Linked DNA regions of Homo sapiens. The protein of the gene in region 5 purifies or fractionates together with the protein of the main gene of each other region. This does not show direct contact. Each region holds a gene or a part of one and is shown on either strand. Other genes may lie near its edges.

Region 1 (3,500 bases), on a different chromosome or scaffold from region 5:
TTTGAGGGGCTAAGGACAGGACAAAACCCTGAGGTCCCCTCAGTGGCATCTCAGGGCTCTGTGCTCTGGGATTGTGCCAACCTTTTGAAAGGGGGTCTGGTCTTCAGGGTCTGTGATGTGTAGCCAGGCCTTTACTGGCCTCTGTCTTCTCAGGGTACTCAGGGCAGGAGTATATGCATTCTGCTTTTCTGAAAGTTGCTAAACCTTAAAGGTTAAGGACATGGGCTTGGAGGCTGGCATTTTCATGTTCAAGTTCCAGCTCCATTACTTACTAGCTGTGTGGCCCTGGGCAACTTACAAACCATCTCCACAACTTAGTTTCCTCATCTGTAAAATGGGCCTCCCATCTCCTGGGCTGGTTGCATGGATAATAAAAGAGCTGCAGAGCCAGGCACACAGTGAGCCCTCAGCAGGGTCAGCTCTGGCCATTCTCTAGCCCCCTCATGTGCAGCCCTCTGCTCAGGTGTGGCCTCTGGGCCAGCAGCAGCATGGGTAGCTGGGAGCTCTCTCAGGTCCACCTACACTTTGGGTATCAGAATACACATTTTAACAAGATCCAGTGATTTTTTTTTGCACTTTGCAGTTTGAGAAGCACTGATGTGTGTCTTCTGAAGAGCAGCATCAGTAGCTGCGTGTGCCTCTTCAGGTGCAAGGAATTTTCTCTTACTGTGCCTTTTCTTACTGTGTCCATCATGTCCTGGCTGCAGAGGCACCTGGGACAAGTCCCAGATAATCACCATCTTCATCAAAACCCTTGTGTCCTGAGCATGTGCTGGCTGGGCCTTGGAGAGTTCAAGTGCCCCAGATGGTGCCCCTGACAGAGAGATGAAGTCAAGGTGGGTGCTTTGCAGGTGGAGCAGCTTAGTTCCTGCAGTGAAGGATGTGCCAGTTAGTGATATATGTGCTGCAGGCAGCCCGGACTCTGAGCACCAGGTGGGTGTCAGGGGAATTGTATGGGGGCAGAATCACTGTCCTTCCTCCTGGTTTGGTGAGAGTGTTGTTTCTCCAGTGGTTTCTGATCTAGGAGGCCTAATTCATCTTAACACTCTTAATTTCTAGAAAGTGCTTAATGCTGCCTGCTCCTCCCCAGTGTGTTCCTTTGGTAACTTACCCCCTCCTGGGGGAGGGATGAGTATTTCTAGGGTCAGTCCTCTCAGAAGCAGCGTGTCCTCGGGACTTGGGAAGGCAAGCCTTACTGGGCAGGAGAAAGACACAGGTTTCTCCTGGGTACCGATTGAGTGTCCTTAAGGACAAGCCCAGGTGGAGAGCCCAGGTGGCCGCTGACCTTAAAGTGATGTAAAGCGTTAGGGACCATCCTTGTGGTTCCCACATGGGGTCTGGGTGAATTCACTCACCTGTGGGGCCCCACCCCCAAACCCACTGAGAAATATAGATAACCAGGCCGGGACCTTCTAGTTCAGTAAGTCTGGGTGGCGTCTTGGGTGGATTTATATCTGTATATAAATCCTGCACCGATGCATAGCAGGTTTGGGTGCTACAGCTGTGGAGCTGTGAAAATGAGAGCTGTCTTGTGAGCCATTGTCTAGATGAATGTTGGGGCCTTGGTCACACCCTGATTGATTTTGGCCATGTCTCTGCCCTGGATGAAAGTGACAGGTCAGGCCTCAGCTTGGGCTTTGGAGTTCCTAAGCCCAGTGCCCCAGTCAGCTAGGCCTGGTGAAGGGCACAGAGAGGGAGAAAAAACCTTGATCAGGTAGGGAGGAAGGAACAGTAGCAGAATCTCCAAAACTGGAGACCAGGGCCTATCTCTTGCACAGCCAGACTTGGGAAGTTGAGGTTGGATTTTTTTTTTTTTTTTTTTTTTTTTGAGACAAAGTCTCACTCTGTTGCCCAGGCTGGAGTGCAGTGATATAATCTTGGCTCACTGCAACTTCCGCTTCCCAGGTTCAAGTGATTCTCATGCCTCAGCTTCCCGAGCAGCTCAGATTACAAACGTGTGCCACCACACCCAGCTAATTATTGTATTTTTAGTAGACACGGGGTTTCGCCATGTTGGCCAGGCAGGTCTCAAACTCCTGGCCTCAAGTGATCTGCCCGCCTTGGCCTCCCAAAGTGCTGGGATTGCAGGCATGAGCCACCATGCGCGTCCGAGGTTGAATATTTATTAAAGGATCTGGCACGTTCCCTTGAAGGCTAGGCAGAGCGATCGGCGTCAGGGATTCAAGAGCAGGAGTCCTAAGAGCTCACGGTCGTGGGAGAGAGTGAGAGGATAAGCTGGTTTTGCCAACCAGGCTTGGCGTGCCTTAGCCTCCCAACAGCCAAGAGGATGGTTGTCCCCACCTGAGGGCCAAGGAAGCGGAGGCTGAGGGAGGTGACCTGGTCAGTGGGGGACCCAGCACTCACCACCATGCCCTGCTGTCAGGCGCATCCAGATGAGAGCTGAGAGAGGGCCCTGCAGGGTTGTAACAGCTCCAGACTGTGCATGCATGATTTCTTTACTTTGGAGCTGTGTGCCCCAGGGGATACTCAGTCAATATCCACAAGAAACACAGTCCAGCAAGGGAGACCTTGGGTGCCCAGGACATGACAACACCAGGGGGTCCTGGGGCACGGTGCTGCCAGATCTGGCTGTAGAGTGAGTTTGGTTCAGAGTGTGTATGCCTGGTCAGAAAGAGGAGGGACTGGGCCAGGCCAGCAGGATGGTGGCAGCTGAGGGAGCTTCCCAGAGGAGTGGGACTTGAACTAGGTCATAGGACCCTGCTGTCATATTCCCCGTGGGGGCTTCAGTCTCTAGGGATGAGGTGCTCAGAGCCCATTTGCTCTGCTGCGTGTGGGGCTCTGTGAAAAGAAAGCCTCCATTTGTTTTCATTGCGGATTCCTCAGCCCCCCTCGACAGTGTTCATAGTTTTCCATTCTCCAGTGGACCTCCATGGTGCCCGACAGGTCTGTGGGGCTGTCTGGTCCAGGCACAGGGAAGTAGCACCTCTAGGGAGGGGGAGGATGTGGCCATCTCAGCTCATGTAGGCCATACTTCTGGGAGAAGGTCTGCTCTGGTTGAGTCCCTGGGGTGCCCAGGGTGGCCAAGGTGCCAGGCAGTATCCCATTCAGTCCTGCCCTTGACTGGGTTGCAGAGGGAGGTGGGGCTGGAAGGGAGGTGGACGAGTGATGGCAGCTGGGGTCCAGAGGTAGGTCCTGGCCATTCTCCATTTCACTGTGCTCTGGATGGGAGAGCCTAAAAAATATTCAGGGAAGCTTTTTCTTTTTCCTTCCGTGCTTCCTTGAAAAACAAGTCCAGGGAGAAACCCAAATTCCCTGTGGGGGAGGGCTGGGCAGAACAGGAGAAGGGGAAGTGACCTTATAGGGGAGAGAGGCCCAAAAGGTCCTTGTGGCAAAGGACCTGAAACTCGGCCTCCCGCCTTCCTCTGAGGGCTGGGAGGCAGAGGAGCACGGCCCATTTTGTGGCTCAGGAAGCTGAGATGAGATAGGAGCAAGAGCTTTCCCTTGTCTCTTTTTCCTATTACCACAGTAATATATGCTCC
Region 2 (2,984 bases), on a different chromosome or scaffold from region 5:
TGGTTAAGTAAAATAACACATCAGGTGGACTTGGGTTATCAGAGTTCTTCCTTCTAGCTCTGTTCCTTAGGCAACTGCTCTCCTATGCCTCAGTTTTATTATCCTTAAAATGGTCATAACAATTTCTACCTCAGGATGATTCATATAAGGATTAAATATGATAATGTATATTGCCTAGCTCAGTGTTTGTTCCAGAGTAAAAACTCATTAAATGGTATCATTATAGAAAACCTCCCATTGAGAAGTAATACTGGTTTTGCTCTATTTTTAGGAGTATATGCAGGAAAAATCCAAAGAAAGCGGCCAAATGTTGCGACAATTTAAGAAGACAACATTCATTAGGATAAAATGGGGGGAAGGATTATTATTCATGTTATTTTCCCTGCCCAAGACTTTATTTAACCCTGGACTCCGTTTACACAGACAAAGTGACATCAGAAGGCTGAGCACTTATCTGGATCATTTGGTCAGTTTGGTAATTCCTGCTCCACACCCCTATTTTCCTCTTAATAATACGTTTGGGTGAAGACAAATTAGTGTTTAGTAATTGCATCATCTCTGTGCTTACCTATACAAACATAAGTTTATTTTATATGCCCAGATGTCTACAGAGACCCTTTTTGTAAATGTCAAGGACATTTGGATTTACTTTTACAGAATATTGAAAAGATAAGACAAATTATAAATAAGTTCTAAAACATAAATTTAATTCATCTCTGCATAGTGATTTTTGAATTTGATTCAAAGGGAAATTATTGCAGAAGAATGCCTTTCCCTCATTTTATAACTTTAAAAACTTGGATTAACCACTCAATGTCCACTTTCTTTGACTTACAGTATAACCATGTAGCCAATTGTGGCCCACTAAAATCTACAGAAGTTAATGTGGGTCACCATTTTGGTCAGAAGCATACATTCCTGTCAGACAACTAGTTGTCTGACAGAAATGTTAGGCTTCATGTATGTTACCCCAGTACTGTTAGAAACATTTGTACTAGGTTATAAGATCTTTCTGTGACAGGTAACAAATTTGGGGAAGACAGCACAATCTTCTTGAATGTAGCTCTTGGGAATGCATTATTACATCCATTTCTGTAACATAATAATATGTTGCATGCAGTTATATTTTCTATTTAGTCTGTATATTTTGTTCTTCATAGTCTGTTTTTTCTAGCATGCTTGATTTAGGAGAGAATAAAGGGCTATATAATAATAAATCCAGATTTCCGGATAAGAATATTGCCTGGTTAAAATTCTGCATTGCTTAAAGACACCCATGTTTAAGATTTTTCATCACTAACATATCCATTAAAAGTATCAACTGGCCAGGCAGGGTGGCTCACGCCTGTACTCCCAGCATTTTGTGAGGCCAAGGTGGGTGGATCACCTGAGGTCAGGAGTTTGAGACCAGCCTGACCAAACATGGCGAAACCCCATCTGTACTGAAAATACAAAAATTAGGCATGGTGGTGCATGCCTGTAGTTCCAGCTACTTGGGAGGCTGAGACAGGCGAATTGCTTGAACCTGGGAGGCAGAGGTTGCAGTGAGCTGAGACTGTGCCATTGCACTCCAGTCGGGTTAACAGAGCAAGACACTGTCTCAAAAAAAAAAAAAAAAAAAAGTATCAACCAACAAATGTTACCAAGATAACGTGACTTCATGAGGGAGAATGTCACTATTAATTTATCATACCATTTCCAAAAAGGGCTTTGTGCTTTTCACATAAAATTGAGACAGTGTATATTTAATCTAATTTAAATTTTAAAGAGATACTGGTATTTTGAAAATGCAACCTATATATATTCTTAATATCCTTTTAAGAATATGGAGATGAAGATTGTTTTCTCCAATTTTCTGTGCCATTTTAAATTTAACTTTGACATCCAGCTATAGACAGAAATAATAAGCCACCCTGGGTGTAAACTTGATTTTCTTTATTGAGATGTATCATGTATTGAATGAGTGAACCAGAAAATTAGAAGATGGTCAAAAAAAGTCCAAGTTACCAATTTTTTAAAATTTATAGGCAAAGTATCAAATTGTCTTCTTAATATGATAAACTGTGCTTTATCATTCTGAAAACTCAGGATACAGCTTATTCATAGCATTGTGGGTCTCTCCAGTAAGAAAGATGCTAAAAGTTTTGTGCACTTTTTGTGTGTGTAATGCAAATTAGTTAAAACAAATAGTTTTGGAGAAAGTTAAAACTAGCTTTAGAGTAAGGATGAGAAACTTGAGTGTTTTTAATTTAAAGATAAAAGCCTGTGTTTTACACATTCTTTTTTGGTGTTCATAGCTTCTTCTCATACAGGTGCCAGACACTGTTTGTGCTTTTGATGGATTTTTATTTATATACTTTTTTTGCTTATTTTTACTTTGAGTGGAATGTTCATTAATGTAAATTGTATTTATTTTTATACTTTTATTTTCACTAGTTTTGCTTCTAGGCAAAAAGCAAAATAAACTTTTCATCTTAAAGAAAATCTAGTTTGATTGTTTTTATTTACCAGGGGAAGGACTATTAAGAAATAGGCCGGGCATGGTGGCTCATGCCTGTAATTCTAGCACTTTGGGAGGCCAAGGTGGGTGGATCATGAGATCAGGAGTTTGAGATCAGCCTGGCTAACATGGTGAAACCCCGTCTCTACTAAAAATACAAAATTAGCTGGGCGTAGTGGTGCATGCCTGTAGTTCCAGCTACTTGGGAGGCTGAAGCAGGAGAATCGCCTGAGCCTGGGATGGGGAGGCTATAGTGAGCCGAGATTGTGCCACTGCACTGCAGCCTGGGTGACAGAGCAAGACTCCATCTCAAAACAAAACAAAAAAGAAACCGATATTAGCCAGGCATGGTGGTTCACATCTGTAGTCCTAGGTACGCTGGAGGCTGAGGCAGGAGGATCACTTGAACCCAGGAGTTACAGGTGGCAGTGAGCTATAATCGCACCACTGCACTCCAGCCTGAATGAGACTTTGTCTCCAAAAC
Region 3 (3,500 bases), on a different chromosome or scaffold from region 5:
GATAAGAGGGCATTACTGTATTGTAAATTATAAATATTAAAGTTTTGAGGTCATAACATCATTTACATTTGTTTTATATTTTGTTTTCAATAAAGAATAAGATAAACAGTAAAGAATTTATGCATGTATTAATAAGCATTCAATTGGAGCTCATACACATGAATTAATTGGTACTGTTGGCTTAGTATTTTAATTCTCAGTTTATGCGGTGGTTGGTTTTTTTTCTTTGTGTACCTTTGAAAAGATACATTGCTTTGGTATTATTAACAAAAAAGTAATAGGTTTTTAAAATATAAAAAGTTATATGCTTATGTTTTTTGATTTATAGAATATTATTTAAAGACAAAGATCGGAATTGGGATGACATAGAAAGCAAATTAAGAGCCGAAAGTGAAGTCCCTATTGTGAAAACCTCAAGCATGGTATAGTAATTTTTCTTGAAGATTAAAACATTTTAATAGAGTTTTATTTTAAGGAAAAGACCCTTATTTTTGAGCTGTTCGTTGATTTGCTTTTTCAAAAGAAGATATAAATGCAAAATTTTGGGAAATTTTATTTCTTCTACTGACTCACAGGTTTAAAATGTTGATTGTTTCAAAGTTGCAGAGGGTATGAAGGAGGAGCCTTTTGTGTTTCTTACTAGTATAGATTGTTCTTGTAATAATTAAACATTAGAAACATGAAATTTTTAAAGAGAACCAAATCTAACATGAAAATATTAAGTTGACATAAGTCGTTTCCGTTTACTTAATATAATGCTTATCTTCTTTTTAAAAGAATTTGTACAGATTTTCATTGCTCAGAATATAATTATAATATTGAGGTTGCAGTTTATATGTTTTTACAAAGATAATTTGAAGGCATTTTTACATAGTTATTGCAAGGTTGATTAATAAGAATTTTAAAAATCTTTGCGGCCGGGTACTGTGGCTCACGCCTATAATCCCAGCACTTTGTGAGGCCAAGGAGGGCGGATCACTTGAGGTCAGGAGTTGAAGACCAGCCTGGCCAATATGGCGAAACTCTGTCTTTACTAAAAATACAAAAATTAGCCAGGCATTGTGGCGGGCGCCTATCATCCCAACTCCTTTGGGGGCTGAGGCAAGAGAATTACTTGAACCTGGGAGGAGGAGGTTACAGTGAGCCAAGATTGCGCCATTGCACTCCAGTCTGGGCGACAGAGTGAGACTCGGTCTCAAAAAAAAAAAATCTTTGCTTAAATAGTAGTAAATGTTAAACTTTTCATCTGCTACAATCATCTCACTGAAAAAGTTATTGTATTTCATTTTAGTTTAAATATTTTAATTTGAATCTTGTTTGCTAGATATCATAATTATTTCATATCATGTTGCTATTAATGTAGTAAGTACCATGTAGATAATATTAAGTGTTCCAAATAAAGTGAGAGTGAAATTCATTGCTTGTAAAGTGATAACATTTAGCTAAAAGTAGGCTAATTTTTGTTATTGCTTTCCCTGCAGGAGATTTCTTCTATCTTACAGGAACTGAAAAGAGTAGAAAAGCAGCTGCAAGGTAAATTTACTACTGAATTAAGTATAAAGAGCTAATAATTTAGAATAAGTGCCTTCTGAGTGGTATTTCTTAAAATATTGTTAGGATGTTATTTGATTAAATGTAATGACATACATAAAATACAGAGTTCAAACATTCACATTATTCATAAAAAGGAATTTTTTTAAACCCAGTATAAAAATTTAAAATGTAATAAAGATATATGTTGGGCATATTTTAGTTCATAGGTTTGACAGTAGGCTAGATGTCATAAACTAATTGAAATTTTTTATGTATTACATATAAATAATATGTGAAAAATATATAATAAAGTTGTGTTAATTAGCATTATTTGTGTGATTTGACAGTTCTTAAATTATGTTGGTGGTGTAACCTGAAACAAACTTACATTCTAATAGAAATAATAGTTGTTTGGTTGACAAGAAATGAGTACATATTGGCCATAGAGACCAGAAGAGAAAGGAGAGAAGAAAGTGAAAGAGGCTGCCCTCTAAACTTGTCAGAGCTGGGCTGTGCATTAATGCCTATGTATGTCTTGACCCAGAAGTCCCCAGTGGTACAACAGGCAGGTTCCATAGTCAACTGCTAATTCTACTGAGTCTTTATCTATCGAATAATCATAGGTACTTATGTGGATCCTATCAAAATGATTTTTCATCTTTATTTAGCCCCAACACACCTAAGGGTTATGGTACACCCCATGAGTAAAAGTGGCTTGCTAACACAGTGCTTGTTAGCTGGTAGACTGGGGGTATACTTTTAAAAGTCCCTTCTACATGATTCTTACATCTATGTTACTTCCTTCTCCCAACTCCCTACTCTGCCCAATGCCAAATTGAAAATCACCGCCTGAGAACTTTCCATGTCAACCCAAAGATCTTTTGGACTGAAAGCTGACCTTTAACTGACCCCTTCCATATAGGCAGCAAGTCTGTTTGGCTTTGCAAGCTGCCCTGTGATATTAGTCTGTAGGCTCTGAGGGAACCCCTGTATCTCAGTGGTGTATACAGCTGATAACCCTAGCACTCTGGCCAGGCTAAATGACCGTATTCTATGGTAGCATTCAAAGTATGCTGATGTTCTTCTGGCCTCTCCAGCCTTGAGGTTACTCTGAACCCTGACTTAGCAGCTAATACCTCAGTTATCTGAGTGATGTGGGTTTAGATGTTTATTAAAAATCATATTCAGTATTTTCTCGGTCCTCTCACAATAATGAAGACAAATTTCAACAAGATTTTTCTTGAATTCCACATCTTCAAATACCAGACTTACAAGTCTCTGAAATGCCCGTAAGTGCCACATCAAAGGACCCAGAGAAAGTATTCAGGGCTGGGTGATTTACAGTACAGCTACAGAATAACTAAGAATGGAGTTTTAAATATAATATTGGAAGATTAGCCACATTTAAGATCACATACGCACTGATAGTTTAAATATTATCCAAATCATGAACAGTGTTTATATGTGAATGTAACTGCATCTAAAATTATTTCCTTTTCCCGCCCTTTAGCAATCAATGCTATGATTGATCCTGATGGAACTTTGGAGGCTCTGAACAACATGGGATTTCCCAGTGCTATGTTGCCATCTCCACCGAAACAGAAGTCCAGCCCTGTGAATAACCACCACAGCCCGGGTCAGACACCAACACTTGGCCAACCAGAAGCTAGGGCTCTTCATCCTGCTGCTGTTTCAGCCGCAGCTGAATTTGAGAATGCTGAATCTGAGGCTGATTTCAGTATACATTTCAATAGATTCAACCCCGATGGGGAAGAGGAAGATGTTACAGTACAAGAATGACTTTCTCTTGATTGTTGAAAAATCATTACCTGTGGAATGGCTAGGAATATTGGAAGCAGCATAGTGTTGATGTACGCAAAACAAGACAGCTTGGTCAGCTACAATCTTGGAATCCCTGTCTTCTTAATTTTATTTATTTATTTTTGACGTATAATGTAGTATATCAA
Region 4 (3,500 bases), on a different chromosome or scaffold from region 5:
ATGATTCGCCCACTTCAGCCTCCCAAAGTGCGGGGATTACAGGCATGAGCCACCGTGCCCAGCCTTTCAGTGCTTTTTTAGAAATAGATACCTGTTCTCTTTAGGGCCCTGACTCTCCCCCACCTCCCTGGATATGGGCAGGGGATGAGCGTTTTATATATATGCACATACATATAGAGATGTGTACATTTCTCACCTCTACATTGAAGCCTAACAGTGTACTTAACAACAGAGTATCTGCAAAACTAAATTATGAGTCTCTTTCTACTTAAATTGTTTAATTTTAATAGGTTTTTTGTTTGTTTTTGTTTTTGGAGACAGAGTCTCATTCTGTCACAGGCTGGAGTGCAGTGGCACGATCTCGGCTCACTGCAACCTCTGCCTCCCTGGTTCAAGCAATTCTCCTGCCTCAGCTTCCCGAGTAGCTGGGACTATAGGTGCGTGCCACCACACCCAGCTAATTTTTGTATTTTTAGTAGAGATGGGGTTTCACCTTGTTGGCCAGGATGGTCTCAATCTCTGGACCTCATGATTCACCCGCCTCGGCCTCCCAAAGTGCTAGGATTACAGGCATGAGCCACCGCGCCCGGCCGAATTTTAATAGTATTAAAACCAATCCCAGTGTTAAACTTACAGAGTAATATTGACCTATATACAACCACACTGACCTTGGTCAATTACTTAACTTTTTCTGAACCTCAGTTTCTCATCAGTAAAATGGAGATAATAATACCTATTTTTTAGGGTAGCATGTGTTATGAGAACTAATCTTTATAATGTTTTTATTACAGAAACAGAAAGCACTTCATTAATGGTGATATGATACAGATGATGATAGTTTCACCTCAGGCTGGACCTGGATATATGAAGGATCCTTATCTGGGATAGAGGTCATTTGCTGGGAGAGAAGGGATTGGGAGTATAGGAGGTATCTCATGCCAGTCTGTGCTAAATCACTGACAATACTGAAATTAAAAATAGATTAAGGTACACCTGAAAGGTAGTTTCTCTGCATTTTTTCTCAGCCTCCATAAGTAGCAGACGTCTTTTAGCCTTCCAGTATGGTTCCTTACCAACTTGAGTTATTTTCAATTTGGCTTGACAGCTACAACTTTTCTTTTATTCAGAGTCATCACCAGTGTTATCGCCAAGGAAGCCTTCTCACCCAGTCATGGATTTTTTCAGTTCACATCTTTTAGCTGACTCTTCCTCACCAGCAACAAATTCTAGTCATACAGATGCCCATGAAATACTTGTGAGCGATTTTCTTGTTTCTGATGAAAACCTTCAGAAGATGGAAAATGTGCTTGATCTTTGGAGTTCAGGTCTTAAGGTACGGTACAGCAGTTCTTCAATTACAGTTGTTTAGTATGTAATGTAATAGTTTTACTCTCATTTATACTGTTTTGTTTTTTTGAGTTAAACTTTCTAAAAATCTTTTGTTTCCTGAGATCAGTTTAGTGTCTTAAGTCTTGCTTCTCAATCTTTAATGTACTTACGAATCATAGCGGGAGCCTGTTAAACTACAGCTTCATATGCAGTAGGTCTTCAGCAGGGCCTAAGATCGTGCTTCTTTTTTTCTTTTTTTGACTCTTGTTTGTTTGTTTGATTTTACTTTAAGTTCTGGGATACATGTGGTGAACATGCAGGTTTGTTACATAGGTATACATGTGCCATGGTGGTTTGCTGCACCTATCAACCTGTCATCTAGGTTTCAAGCCCCACATGCATTAGGTATGTGTCCTAATGCTCTCCCTCCCCTTACCCTCCACCCCCTGACAGGCCCCGGTGTGTGATGTTCCCCTCCATGTGTCCATGTGTTCTCATTTCTGTCAAGCTCCCAGGTGTTGCTACTGGTTCAGAAACTGTACTTTGAGTTGCCAGGTTTTAAGTGGTTGCTGGAACGGTTCTACATGCTCCATTGAATTTCACAGATACTTTGAATGGCTCAGCCTGTGTGTAACTGAGACATACTGTGCCTTTACCATATCGTAGTTGTGACTAATAGAAATGTCTCCTTTTATGCAATAACGAAAGATCCAATTTTAGCAATGGATATTCATTTTATAGCCACTCCTATAGCAACTATGATGTGTAAGTGATAAAACTATAAAAGTTGATTTTTATTTTGATACTACTGGCCTTTAAGTAAAACAAAGTATTGCAGAAATAGTAAGTGGGTTTTATTTATTTATTTATTTATTTATTTTTATTATTATTATACTTTAAGTTTTAGGGTACATGTACACAATGTGCAGGTTAGTTACATATGTATACATGTGCCATGCTGGTGCGCTGCACCCACTAACTCATCATCTAGCATTAGGTATATCTCCCAATGCTATCCCTCCCCCCTCCCCCCACCCAACAACAGTCCCCAGAGTGTGATGTTCCCCTTCCTGTGTCCATGTGTTCTCCTTGTTCAATTCCCACCTATCAGTGAGAATATGCGGTGTTGGGTTTTTTGTTCTTGCGATAGTTTACTGAGAATGATGATTTCCAGTTTCATCCATGTCCCTACAAAGGACATGAACTCATCATTTTTTATGGCTGCATAGTATTCCATGGTGTATATGTGCCACATTTTCTTAATCCAGTCTATCATTGTTGGACATTTGGGTTGGTTCCAAGTCTTTGCTATTGTGAATAATGCCGCAATAAACATACGTGTGCATGTGTCTTTATAGCCGCATGATTTATAGTCCTTTGGGTATATACCCCGTAATGGGATGGCTGGGTCAAATGGTATTTGTAGTTCTAGATCCCTGAGGAATCGCCACACTGACTTCCACAATGGTTGAACTAGTTTACAGTCCCACCAACAGTGTAAAAGTGTTCCTATTTCTCCACATCCTCTCCAGCACCTGTTGTTTCCTGACTTTTTAATGATTGCCATTCTAACTGGTGTGAGATGGTATCTCATTGTGGTTTTGATTTGCATTTCTCTGATGGCCAGTGATGGTGAGCATTTTTTCATGTGTTTTTTGGCTGCATAAATGTCTTCTTTTGAGAAGTGTCTGTTCATGTCCTTTGCCCACTTTTTGATGGGGTTGTTTGCTTTTTTCTTGTAAATTTGTTTGAGTTCATTGTAGATTCTGGATATTAGCCCTTTGTCAGATAAGTAGGTTGTGAAAATTTTCTCCCGTTTTGTAGGTTGCCTGTTCACTCTGATGGTAGTTTGTTTTGCTGTGCAGAAGCTCTTTAGTTTAATTAGATCCCATTTGTCAATTTTGGCTTTTGTTGCCATTGCTTTTGGTGTTTTAGACATGAAGTCCTTGCCCATGCCTGTGTCCTGAATGGTAATGCCTAGGTTTTCTTCTAGGGTTTTTATGGTTTTAGGTCTAACATTTAAGTCTTTAATCCATCTTGAATTGATTTTTGTATAAGGTGTAAGGAAGGGATCCAGTTTCAGCTTTCTACATATGGCTAGCCAGTTTTCCCAGCACCATTTATTAAATAGGGAATCCTTTCCTCATTGCTTGTTTTTCTCAGGTTTGTCA
Region 5 (3,500 bases):
CAGCCCTACCTTTCACCATTGCTTTATCATTCTCACACAAGGGGAGTTTCAAGGGCCTGTCAACACTTACTTTCTTGAGGTTTCTGATATGTTTATCTGCATCACTGTTTCTTTTTTTTTTTTTTTTTTTGAGATGGAGTTTTGCTCTTGTTGCCCAGGCTGGAGTGCAATGGCACGATCTCAGCTCACTGCAACCTCTGCCTCCCAGGTTCAAGTGATTCTCCTACCTCAGCCTCCAGAGTAGCTGGGATTACAGGCACACGCCACCACGCCCAGCTAATTTTTGTATTTTTAGTAGAGACCATAGTTTCACCATGTTGGCCAGCATAGTCTCAGTCTCTTGATTGACCTGAACTCCTGACCTCAGGTGATCCACCCGCCTCAGCCTCCCAAAGTGCTGGGATTACAGGCATGAGCCACCATGCCCGGCCCTGCATGACTGTTTCTTAAAAATAACCCCCAATCATTGTGTCTTTTTTTTTTTTTTTAAGACGGGGTCTTGCTGTGTCGCCCAGGCTGGAGCACAGTGGCGCCATCATAGCTCACTTCAACCTCCGCCTACCGGGCTCGAGCAATTCTCTCAGCTCAGCCTCAAGTGATTCGCCTGCCTCAGCTACCCAAAGTGCTGGGATGCCCTAGAGATGTTTTCTTGTTATCGCAACTGGGAGAGGGAAGTATGTGCTTCTGGCATCTAGCCAGGGATGTTACTAAATATCCCGCATTTCACAATAACAAATAATTAGCCAGCCTAAAACATCAACACTGCCAAAGTTGTAAAACTCTGTTATAGAGGAAAGCAACAGAAAATAAACTAGTATAAACCAGTAAATTGCCGGGGCCGGACACTGTGACTCATGCCTGTTATCCCAGCACTTTGGGAGGCTGAGGCGGGCGGATCACGAGGTTAGGAGTTCAAGACCAGCCTGGCCAACATGGTGAAACCCCATCTCTACTAAAAATACAAAAATTAGCCAGGTGTGGTGGTGCACACCTGTAATCCCAGCTACTCAGGAGGCTGAGGCAGGAGAATTACTTGAACCCAGGTGGTGGAGGTTGCAGTGAGCTGAGATTGCGCCACTGCACTCCAGCCTGGGTAACAGAGCAAGACTCCATCTCGGAAAAAAAAAAAAAGAAGAAGATAATTTCATATAATGGTAAGAGCTGAGAGCAGGGTGGCTGCATTCAACTGAGTGCTTTTTTTCTAATTTGCACAAGGTTCCTGCATGGGCCAGTAGCTGCTCTGGCTTAAGGTAAAATAAAGTGCTGGGTTGGTCGAGGATGGATACTTAAATTGGATGCAAATGAAGACCTGTCTGAGGAGAGGACATTATATTTTATTTTATTTTATTTTATTTTATTTTTTGAGATGGAGTTTCATTCTTGTTGTCCAGGCTGGAGTGCAATGGCACGATCTCGGCTCACTGCAACCTCCGCCTCCCAGATTCAAACAATTCTCCTGCTTCAGCCTCCCTAGTAGCTGGGATTATAGGCATGCACCACCACGCCCGGCTAATTTTTGTATTTTTAGTAGAGACAGAGTTTCTCCATATTGGTCTGGCTGGTCTCGAACTCCCAACCCCAGGTGATCCTCCCGCCTCAGCCTCCCAAAGTGCTGGGATTACAGGCATGAGCCATCGTGCCTGGCAGGAGAGGACATTTGAACTGAATCTTTTTTGAGACAGAGTTTTGCTCTTGTTGCCCAAGCTGGAGTGCGGTGGTACGATCTCAGCTCACTGCAACCTCTGCCTTCCAGATTCAAGCGATTCTCCTGCCTCAGCCTCCCAAGTAGGTGGGATTACAGGCGCTTGCCACTGCACACAGCTAATTTTTGTACTTTTAGTAGAGACGGGGTTTCTCCTTGTTGGTCTGGCTGGTCTCGAACTCCCGACTCCAGGTGATCCTCCTACCTCAGCCTCCCAAAGTGCTGGGATTACAGGCATGAGCCATCATGCCTGGCAGGAGAGGACATTTGAACTGAATCTTTTTTTTTTTTTTTTTGAGATGGAGTTTCGCTCTTGTTGCCCAGCTGGAATGCAGTGGCGCGATCTCGTCTCACTGCAACCTCCCCCTCCTGGGTTCAAGCGATTCTCCTGCCTCAGCCTCCCAAGTAGCTGGGATTACAGGTGCATGCCACTGCACCCAGCTAATTTTTGTATTTTTAGTAGAGACGGAGTTTTGCCATGTTAGCCAGGCTAGTCTTGAACTCCTGATCTCAGGTGATCTGCCTGCCTCAGCCTCCCAAAGTGCTAGGATTACAGGTGTGAGCCACCACACCCGGGTGAACTGAATCTTCTATGACAAGGAGTCGGCCATGTAAAGACCGGCATTTTAGATAGAGGAAATAACAAGCCTGAAGGGCCTGGGACAGCAATGAACTTGGTATAGTTAAGGAGTAAAAGAAAAGACCAGGCTGGGCATGGTGGCTCATACATGTAATCTAAGCACTTTAGGAGGTAAAGGCAGGAGTGTCTCTTGAGGCCAGGAGTTCAAGACCAGCCTGGACAACATAATGAGACCTCATCTTTACAAAACAAAAATCTTTTTTAACTAGCCAGGCATGGTAGTGTACACCTGTTAGTCCCAACTGCTTGGGAGGCTGAGACAGGAAGATCGCTTGAGCCCAGGAATTTTGAGGCTGCAGTGAGCTGTGATCACACCACTGTACTCCAGCCTAGGCAACAGAGCAAGACCTTGTCTCAAAAAAAAAAAAAAAAAAAAAAAAAGAATTCCTTCTGGCTGCTCAAGGACTATAAATATATAAATATAAAGCGATTTCTCTTCCATGCCTCGGTGTTTTAAAAATTCTGTGGAGTATTTCTGCTTTCTCCTTACCTATAATGTAAAATGCTCTCAGTAAAGTGACTGATTAGCAGGCTTCTAGGAAATCATCAAAATGAATGGAGGCAGAGAGGTCTTCCTGGAAAGCTCTCTGTGCTTTCCACATTCGGAATTTTCTGAATCTAAGCTGCTAACCTGAGGCTTTGGGTTTTGGAAAGCACATGCTACAACAGAGTTATTTAGCAGCAACACAACAAGCAAGGGAGGGATGGTAAGTGTAAAAAAAAAAAAAATCATCTCCATGTTCAGTTCAGAACTATATGCCGTGTGGCTATCCTGAAAAGGGCAGGTGTTCACTTGCCCTCTGGGTAAAAGTTCCCAGTCCTCACCATGAGTCCAAATCTCCTGGGGACCTTTATGAAAAAAATGCAAATGCTGGGACCCCACCCCAGAACCAGTGAATCTGGATCTGGACTCAGGGACAGACCTGGATATAAGCAAGTTATAAGTTCATTAGATGATTTTAATGTGTAGTCAGGGCTGGGAATCCTTGCCTTCTGGAAATCTTGAGGAATTTCAGCTGGTTTGGCCTAACTATTTTGGATATGTTACTTTTCAGGATAGCATTGGGCAGCTGGAGAATGATCTGAGGAACACCAAGAGTGAGATGGCACGCCACCTTCGGGAATACCAGGACTTGCTCAATGTCAAAATGGCTCTTG
Region 6 (3,500 bases), on a different chromosome or scaffold from region 5:
TGAAAAGGGCTGAGGGGGCCTGGCGTGGTGGCTCACGCCTGTAATCACAGCACTTTGGGAGGCTGAGGCAGGCGGATCACGAGGTCAGGAGATCGAGACCATCCTGGCTAACACGGTGAAACCCGTCTCTACTAAAAATAGAAAAAATTAGCCGGGCATGGTGGTGGGTGCCTGTAGTCCCAGCTACTCGGGAGGCTGAGGCAGGAGAATGGCGTGAACCTGGGAGGCGGAGCTTGCAGTGAGCCGAGATCATGCCGCTGCACTCCAGCCTGGGCGACAGAGCGAGACTCCGTCTCAAAAAAAAAAAACTAAAAAAGAAAAGGGCTGAGGGTTAAGAGCCTGAAAGCTGGGACTTAAATGTTTTTCTGAGGAGGGCTTTTTTGACCATTCCATCTAATATGGCACCACCTCCTTTCCAAGTAGTCAGATCGCCTTCTTATTTCTTTCATGTAGCTTATCGTTCTGATATATCTTGTTTTTTTCTCCTCTCTAAAATTTGAGGGTCCGTATCTTGTTTGTCTTAGTACTGGCTGCCTAAGGTCTAGAATATACATAACACAGAAACACTCTGTGTTTGTCGAATGGACACAAACTCTGCTAGCTTGTGCACAGGATTTACAGCTACTGGTGATATACTGAGCTTTATCTCTGTGAGCCTCTGCCTTAGTGTCTGAAGGGGACAGAGAAATAGACAAAGGAGAGGAAAAGTCAAAATCACTGGTTGCCATTTTTGGAAGCCTCTCTTTCTCCATGTTAAACCCCTTGGCATGAATGAAAGGCTTTCCCCTTTATCCTTGCTGTGTTTATTCATTGTGTCCAATGAGCTTCTGAAGGTAGGAGTAACTTTGCACATTTTGCTGTGTGGGCTGCTGCATCTCTGCCAAAAGGTTTATGGGATTTTTACTCAGGAGATCCAGGAAAAGGAGGAGCCTGGAATCTAAGCACTTATCTCCTGAAAAGGTACAGAAACATGTTGGAGATCTTGAGCCTCAAGGTGCTTGCTTCAGAATTTTCCTGATTCTCCCTCTCCAGACCTATTCTGTTCTTGGGACCCAAGCTTCTTGGCTCCAGCCCACTCCCCCACTAGAGGAGCTGGAAAGTTTGGTGCTGTGGTCATACCAAAGATGGGCAACACCCAGACTCCTCACCCTTTTCCCCAGCATTGTGAGCGCCATATTCAGAGCCTGCAGACCCGAGTGTTAGAGCTACAGCAACAATTAGCCGTGGCTGTGGCTGCCGACCGCAAGAAAGATACCATGATTGAACAACTGGACAAGGTACCAGGGTAGCAAAATGTGGGTGGGTCTCTCCATGAAGAGCATTAAGGAATAATAAATAAGTGGGTGGCCAACCAATGTTTCTTGGTACATGCTGAGAGCTGGGCAAGGGGTTGGTTTGCTGACTGTTGGGAGAAGATGGCTGTTGACCCTGCCCCTGTGGGTAGAAAGAGGCAAAAAAGTTATTTTGAAATTTCATCTTACTTGCCCTACCTAAGACCCTGGCCCGTGTGGTGGAGGGCTGGAACCGGCATGAGGCTGAGCGGACAGAGGTTCTCAGGGGACTTCAAGAGGAACACCAGGCAGCAGAGCTCACCAGAAGCAAGCAGCAGGAGGTGAGCGCCCTGGAGCATATGGCATTAGAACCTGAGTCACAGATCTCAAGATGGAAAGGGGCAGAAATAGCTCTGGAATTAGGGTTTCCAACAGATTGACCTCAGTCTTGTAGTGGCTGTCCTGACATTTCTTCTCATCCCTCCTTTCTTCTCCTTTAACCGTTTCTGCTGTCCAACTTGAATCATCAATGTCTTAATTTTTCCCACACCATGTAGTCTTCTATCTGGCCCCTTAGTCATTTAGTTAACTGTGAAGTTTCAAGTTTACATTGTCAATGCTTTATAAAATATAGCACACACAGATTTCCCACAGTTCCTCTGCCCTGTATTCCTCTCTTCCTGAAAGACAGTAACCCGCCTGGAACAAAGCCTTTCTGAGGCCATGGAGGCCCTGAATCGTGAGCAGGAAAGTGCCAGACTGCAGCAACGGGAAAGAGAGACACTGGTGAGAAGATTGGACTGGGTTAATTCCACTGGAAGCTGTTAATTACTTCTAGAGAGCTGTGGGCTATTGGTGGATTGTGGGAGATTATAATTTGAGTTGCACCAGAGCACTGTTTCCCAAAGTGTGTTCCTTAGAACACTAATTCAGCTAGATATTCTATTAAAAAAAAAGGCTCTGCTACCAAGTCGGTTTGAGAAACTCTGCAAATTGTATCATCATTAGAATATTAGTGTCATCTGAAGAATTATTTTAAAATATAGGCTAGGCACGGTGGCTCACCCCTGTAATCCCAGCACTTTGGGAGGCCAAGGCAGGCAGATCATGAGGTCAGGAGTTTGAGACCAGCCTGGCCAGCATGGTGAAACCCCGTCTCTACTAAAAATACAAAAAACTAGCTGGACATGGTGGTGCATGCCTGTAGTCCCAGCGACTTGGGAGGCTGAGGCAGGAGAATTGCTTGAACCCAGCAGGCAGAGGTTGCAGTGAGCTGAGATCAAGCCACTGCACTCCAGCCTGGGTGACAGAGTGAGACTCCATCTCAAAAAATAAAAATAAAAAATAAAATAAAATAAAGATTTCTGGGACTCACCTGCAGAGGTTTTGATTCAGTAGATATATGGTGGAACTCAAATCTTTTCAGAAATTTCCTGGGTGATTTTTTTCAATCTGGTTTGGGACCTCTGGTGTAGGGCATGGCCAAAAAAGGTATGAAATTGACTAACTCAAGTTTCTTTTCGTGTTTTTTTTTTTTTTTTTTTGAGACAGGGTCGCGCTCTGTTGTCCAGGCTGGAGTGCAGTGGCACAATCTCAGCTCACTGCAGCCTCTGCCCCCTGGATTCTAGCGATTCTCCCACCTTAGCCTCCCAAGTAGCTGGGACTACAGGCGTATACCACCACGCCTAGCTAATTTTTGTATTTTTTTGGTAGAGACGGGGTTTCGCCATGTTGGCCAGGCTGGTCTCAAACTCCTGACCTCAAGTGATCTGCCCGCCTTGGCCTCCCAAAGTGCTGGGATTACAGGCATAAGCCACCATACCCAGCCACTTCACTCAAGTCTCTTAGAGCTGAAATGATAAGGTGATTAGCCATATGAATTAGTAGCTGGGATTGGAACTTGTTGCATGCATAATGCATGCTTGCTACATGCATGCTGGTACTTGTAGTCTTAACAGGCTATATCTGACAGTCCTGATGATGATGGGTGATGGTTCACGATTATAGGCTGGATATTCTAGTCTTAGTGGAATTTCTTTTGACGATGATGGTGGTAACTATTGTGTATTGAGTACTTACTATGTGCCTGATGCCGTGCTAAATGCCTTACATATGCTTTTTACTTTAATGCTCAGAAGGCAGACCCTGTTATGATCTCCAGTTTACAGATAAGAATGTATGCCTAAGAACACATAGTAAATTCCAGAACCAGGATTCGAACCTGAGATT
Region 7 (3,500 bases), on a different chromosome or scaffold from region 5:
CTGATCCAGGAGGTCCGCTGCAGCGGCCAGGAGCTGAGCAGGTAGTGGCTGTGCTTCCCTGGTGGCCTGCTGGCCGTACCACGCATGCAGGCACTGGGCTGCAGTCGTGGAATCAGCACGCAGGCCTCTGCCTTAGTGCACAGTGGCAGGCAGTAGACACAAACACATTGTACGTCTGGTGCGCCTACAACATATGGAGAAAGATCCTGTAAGGAGGAGAGGGCTTGGCAGTGGGTTGCTGTTTTTTGTCAAGGGTGAGTCAGGGAAGGCCTTTGTGAAAAGATGCCATTTGCTCAGAGAGCTGAATGCAGTGAGGAGGTGAGTGCTGCAGCTACCTGGGAAAGATCATTTCAGGCAGAATGGGCGCAGGCCCTGAGGCAAAGTGGCTTAGGCCTGTGCCGGACAGAGCAGGGCAGTGTATCTGGAGAGGGGGCTGGCAGGATACCAAATCACATCGGGCTGCAGAGTCAGTGTGAGGACTTTGGGTTTTCCTCTGAGTGGCATGGGAAGCCACTGGGAGATTCTGAGCAGAGGAGTGGAATTAGGATTAGAGAGCACATGGAATTCTTAACCATGCTTGTCACTTCTTGGTCCACACTCTTGTGACTGAGGGTGGAATTGGCCTGCTCTGTGGGGTTTGAATAAGTTACCCTGAGGTAGAATTAACCTGTCCTTCTCATGCCTGTGGGGCCTTCTCAGGGTGCAGGAGGAGGTGAAGTTGAGGCAGCAGCTGCTCTCACAGAATGACAAGCTATTGCAGTCTCTCCGAGTGGAGCTGAAGGCGTATGAGAAGCTGGATGAAGAGCACAGGAGACTGAGAGGTACTGAGGCCCTTCTCACCTTGAGGCTACTGTGCTTTGGGCTGTAAGACCACCCGACAGCTGGCTGTAGGCACAGGAGGGCAGAGCTCAGCCCTCTCCACTCTGGCCTTGTGGGTAGAGTGGATGGGTGTTGAAGCTAGCTCTTTGACCCACTCTTCTTCTGAAGGAACAGCAGGAAACATAGAAGGACTGAGGCTCAGCACCCAGGCCAGCCGAGGTCCGGGTTCCCACTCACTTGTTCCCAGCTATGTGACCCTCAGTAGGCCACTTCACCCTTTGAGCCCATACCTATCTCTGTAAAACATGTCTCTCAGCACCTGTTGTGTGGAGAATTGTGTTGAAAATTGAATGAGACCATTTATTAAAAGCATCCTAGCAAGATACCTGACACATAGTAGGCACCCAGGAAATGACCTTTATTATAATCGTCCTGCTAGTATATGTTACTTTTTGCCCACTCATTCAGCAAACATTTATGGACACCTCTCACGTGCTGGGCATTGCTCTGGGGATGGTTGTTGGCCTCGTTGCTCTCTGTATCCCAGGAGAGATACCAGCTCAGAGTGCTTCAACTATAACGTCTAATGTTTCAGAATCAATTTTGAGGTGTGGTGAGGTGTTTTTTTTTTTTTTTTATTTTACTAATTTTCCAGATGGTTTCTCTCTATTGAAAGTTTATCTAGAAAGGGGTCATCTCACAGCTTTTATTTTCTCCTCAACTTGCTTTTTTTATTCTTGCTGTTGTGTCTTTTTAATATAGTGTGGCTCTTAAAATCATCCCCTTTCATTCTATAATTCTAGCCCAAATAGATTTTATTACTACTAGACATAATTTCGGGGTTTGGTGTGCAATTTGCTAGGCTTTTATGGCCAGAAGCGAAAATTAATTTCCAGCTCTTATTTAGCGTGTGGAATAGCAGCAATTAAGTCTGCCAATATTTTTGTTTCTAAAGTCAAGTTGTTATTTTAAACTGTACCTAGTTCTTAGGAAGGGGGAGGGCGATGGTGGTGGTGAGTGTAAAATGCGATTGAGTTCCTTCGATGGCTGACCCTTTGGTTGTGGAAGATGTCAGGGCTTCTCTTTGCACATGTCCTCAGAGGCGTCGGGAGAAGGCTGGAAGGGGCAGGATCCTTTCAGGGACCTGCACAGCCTCCTGATGGAGATCCAGGCTCTGCGCTTGCAACTAGAAAGGAGCATCGAAACCAGCAGCACTCTGCAGAGCAGGCTCAAGGAACAGCTGGCAAGGGGGGCAGAGAAGGCACAGGAAGGAGCCCTCACTCTGGCTGTCCAAGCCGTGTCCATCCCTGAGGTGCCCCTTCAGCCTGACAAACACGGTACTGCCCCTGCCTCTCCCCACTTGCTGAGAATGCAGCTCTGAGCATCTGTGTGTGACATGTGAACTTCTGAATGATGCCTTTGCCCCACAGAGGTGTCTTTCCATTGATAGCTGACATGCTGTACCCTAGGAGCCAGGGGACCTGACTGCTAATTAATTAGCGGTCACCTTGGGCAAAGTGGCGTAATCTCCATCTGAGGCATCTTGATTCTCAGGGAAGTGGAATTTGGACTTCCAGACACCCTCAGTGCCTCTGGCCTTGCTCCCTCCTATCCATTTAGTCCTGCCTGCATCACTTTGATGCTGAAATTTCTTTTAGTTTCTCTTACTGCCTTTAGAAGGGAACCTAAACATCTTAATCTGGCTTTCAGTGTCTTTCAGGATCTGAAAATCATCCTGATAGGTTTAAAAAGTGGATCTGTTTTGCATTTGTGTGCAGGTTAATTGCCTAGCCCTGGAGAGGCTGTGGGGGGTACGAGAAAGAGGACCAGACACCTCTACCACCCGCCCACCCAGGGTGTGGAGCAAACCAGTAAATGGTTAGACTCCAAGCAATCAGGCAGCCTGTCCTCTTTGCTCTAGAGATGAAAAACAAAGGCCCAGAGAGTGGATGGGGCTTGCCCAAAGTGGCACAGCAAGTAGGCAGCAGAGCTGGAGCTAGAAACCATTTCCAGCTTCGAGTCCAGGGCTGTTCCTAAACCCCACTGGACTCTCTGGAGCGTTGGGTATCCTGGGATTATCATCCTGACACCCATAGGGTAAATGTGTGTATCCAGTGGGATGAGGAATGCCAGCCTGCTTTACAAGCAAGTATTGTACTAAAGTTTGGACTGACTTTTACTTGGATACCTCTAGTTAAAAAAATAAAAATAAATCTCTTAAGGAGCACCTGGTCAGTCCGCTCGTAGTGATTAGTTCATTGATTTCTCATTGACAAGGATCTTAAAATTTAATCAAAAAGATGATGTAATAATATGAAAAAAGTGAACAGAGAAAAAAAGTTCATGATTCTACACATTGATCATTTTTTAAAATTTGCATATTTTTTCATTTATTAAATATGAGCATGAATTTATATTTTTCAAATTGGATTTTGTGTCATTGTGTGTCCTTTCTTTGTTTTTGCCCAATATTACATCATACATGTTCCCTGTGCTTTCACATGGGCTTCCTAATGATTGTTTGCAGGCTATTCTCAGTCACCAATCCATGACCCCGTTGATTTATTAAAGTGGTCTCTGATTTGGAGCCATAATAGACATCAATGTTAATATGCTTTTTGCTGTTAAATAATATTCTTAGGAGAAAACCCTACAAGGGGAACCTCATAAGTTTGGAAAGG

Evidence for each region.
Region 1: the proteins of INA (region 5) and RAB11FIP5 fractionate together in Homo sapiens (co-fractionation; one large-scale study listed by BioGRID). This does not show direct contact.
Region 2: the proteins of INA (region 5) and CCP110 purify together in Homo sapiens (co-immunoprecipitation; one large-scale study listed by IntAct). This does not show direct contact.
Region 3: the proteins of INA (region 5) and CEP170 purify together in Homo sapiens (co-immunoprecipitation; one large-scale study listed by IntAct). This does not show direct contact.
Region 4: the proteins of INA (region 5) and POC5 purify together in Homo sapiens (co-immunoprecipitation; one large-scale study listed by IntAct). This does not show direct contact.
Region 6: the proteins of INA (region 5) and CNTROB purify together in Homo sapiens (co-immunoprecipitation; one large-scale study listed by IntAct). This does not show direct contact.
Region 7: the proteins of INA (region 5) and CDK5RAP2 purify together in Homo sapiens (co-immunoprecipitation; one large-scale study listed by IntAct). This does not show direct contact.

What each region holds. Positions count from the first base shown.
Region 1 is NC_000002.12:73,092,449-73,095,948, reverse strand, and holds part of RAB11FIP5 (rab11 family-interacting protein 5), read left to right. Parts: intron 1-3,500. UniProt on the Homo sapiens protein: Rab effector involved in protein trafficking from apical recycling endosomes to the apical plasma membrane. Involved in insulin granule exocytosis. May regulate V-ATPase intracellular transport in response to extracellular acidosis.
Region 2 is NC_000016.10:19,550,925-19,553,908, forward strand, and holds the end of CCP110 (centriolar coiled-coil protein of 110 kDa), read left to right. Parts: intron 1-271; coding exon 272-347; 3' UTR 348-2,484; downstream 2,485-2,984.
Region 3 is NC_000001.11:243,126,282-243,129,781, reverse strand, and holds part of CEP170 (centrosomal protein of 170 kDa), read left to right. Parts: intron 1-328; coding exon 329-422; intron 423-1,481; coding exon 1,482-1,533; intron 1,534-3,043; coding exon 3,044-3,333; 3' UTR 3,334-3,500.
Region 4 is NC_000005.10:75,700,438-75,703,937, reverse strand, and holds part of POC5 (centrosomal protein POC5), read left to right. Parts: intron 1-1,127; coding exon 1,128-1,333; intron 1,334-3,500. UniProt on the Homo sapiens protein: Essential for the assembly of the distal half of centrioles, required for centriole elongation. Acts as a negative regulator of centriole elongation.
Region 5 is NC_000010.11:103,283,638-103,287,137, forward strand, and holds part of INA (alpha-internexin), read left to right. Parts: intron 1-3,397; coding exon 3,398-3,500. UniProt on the Homo sapiens protein: Class-IV neuronal intermediate filament that is able to self-assemble. It is involved in the morphogenesis of neurons.
Region 6 is NC_000017.11:7,935,206-7,938,705, forward strand, and holds part of CNTROB (centrobin), read left to right. Parts: intron 1-1,032; exon of another isoform or gene 1,033-1,124; coding exon of another isoform or gene 1,125-1,160; coding exon 1,161-1,277; intron 1,278-1,495; coding exon 1,496-1,612; intron 1,613-1,958; coding exon 1,959-2,057; intron 2,058-3,500. UniProt on the Homo sapiens protein: Required for centriole duplication. Inhibition of centriole duplication leading to defects in cytokinesis.
Region 7 is NC_000009.12:120,405,668-120,409,167, reverse strand, and holds part of CDK5RAP2 (CDK5 regulatory subunit-associated protein 2), read left to right. Parts: coding exon 1-41; intron 42-699; coding exon 700-821; intron 822-1,919; coding exon 1,920-2,156; intron 2,157-3,500. UniProt on the Homo sapiens protein: Potential regulator of CDK5 activity via its interaction with CDK5R1. Negative regulator of centriole disengagement (licensing) which maintains centriole engagement and cohesion. Involved in regulation of mitotic spindle orientation.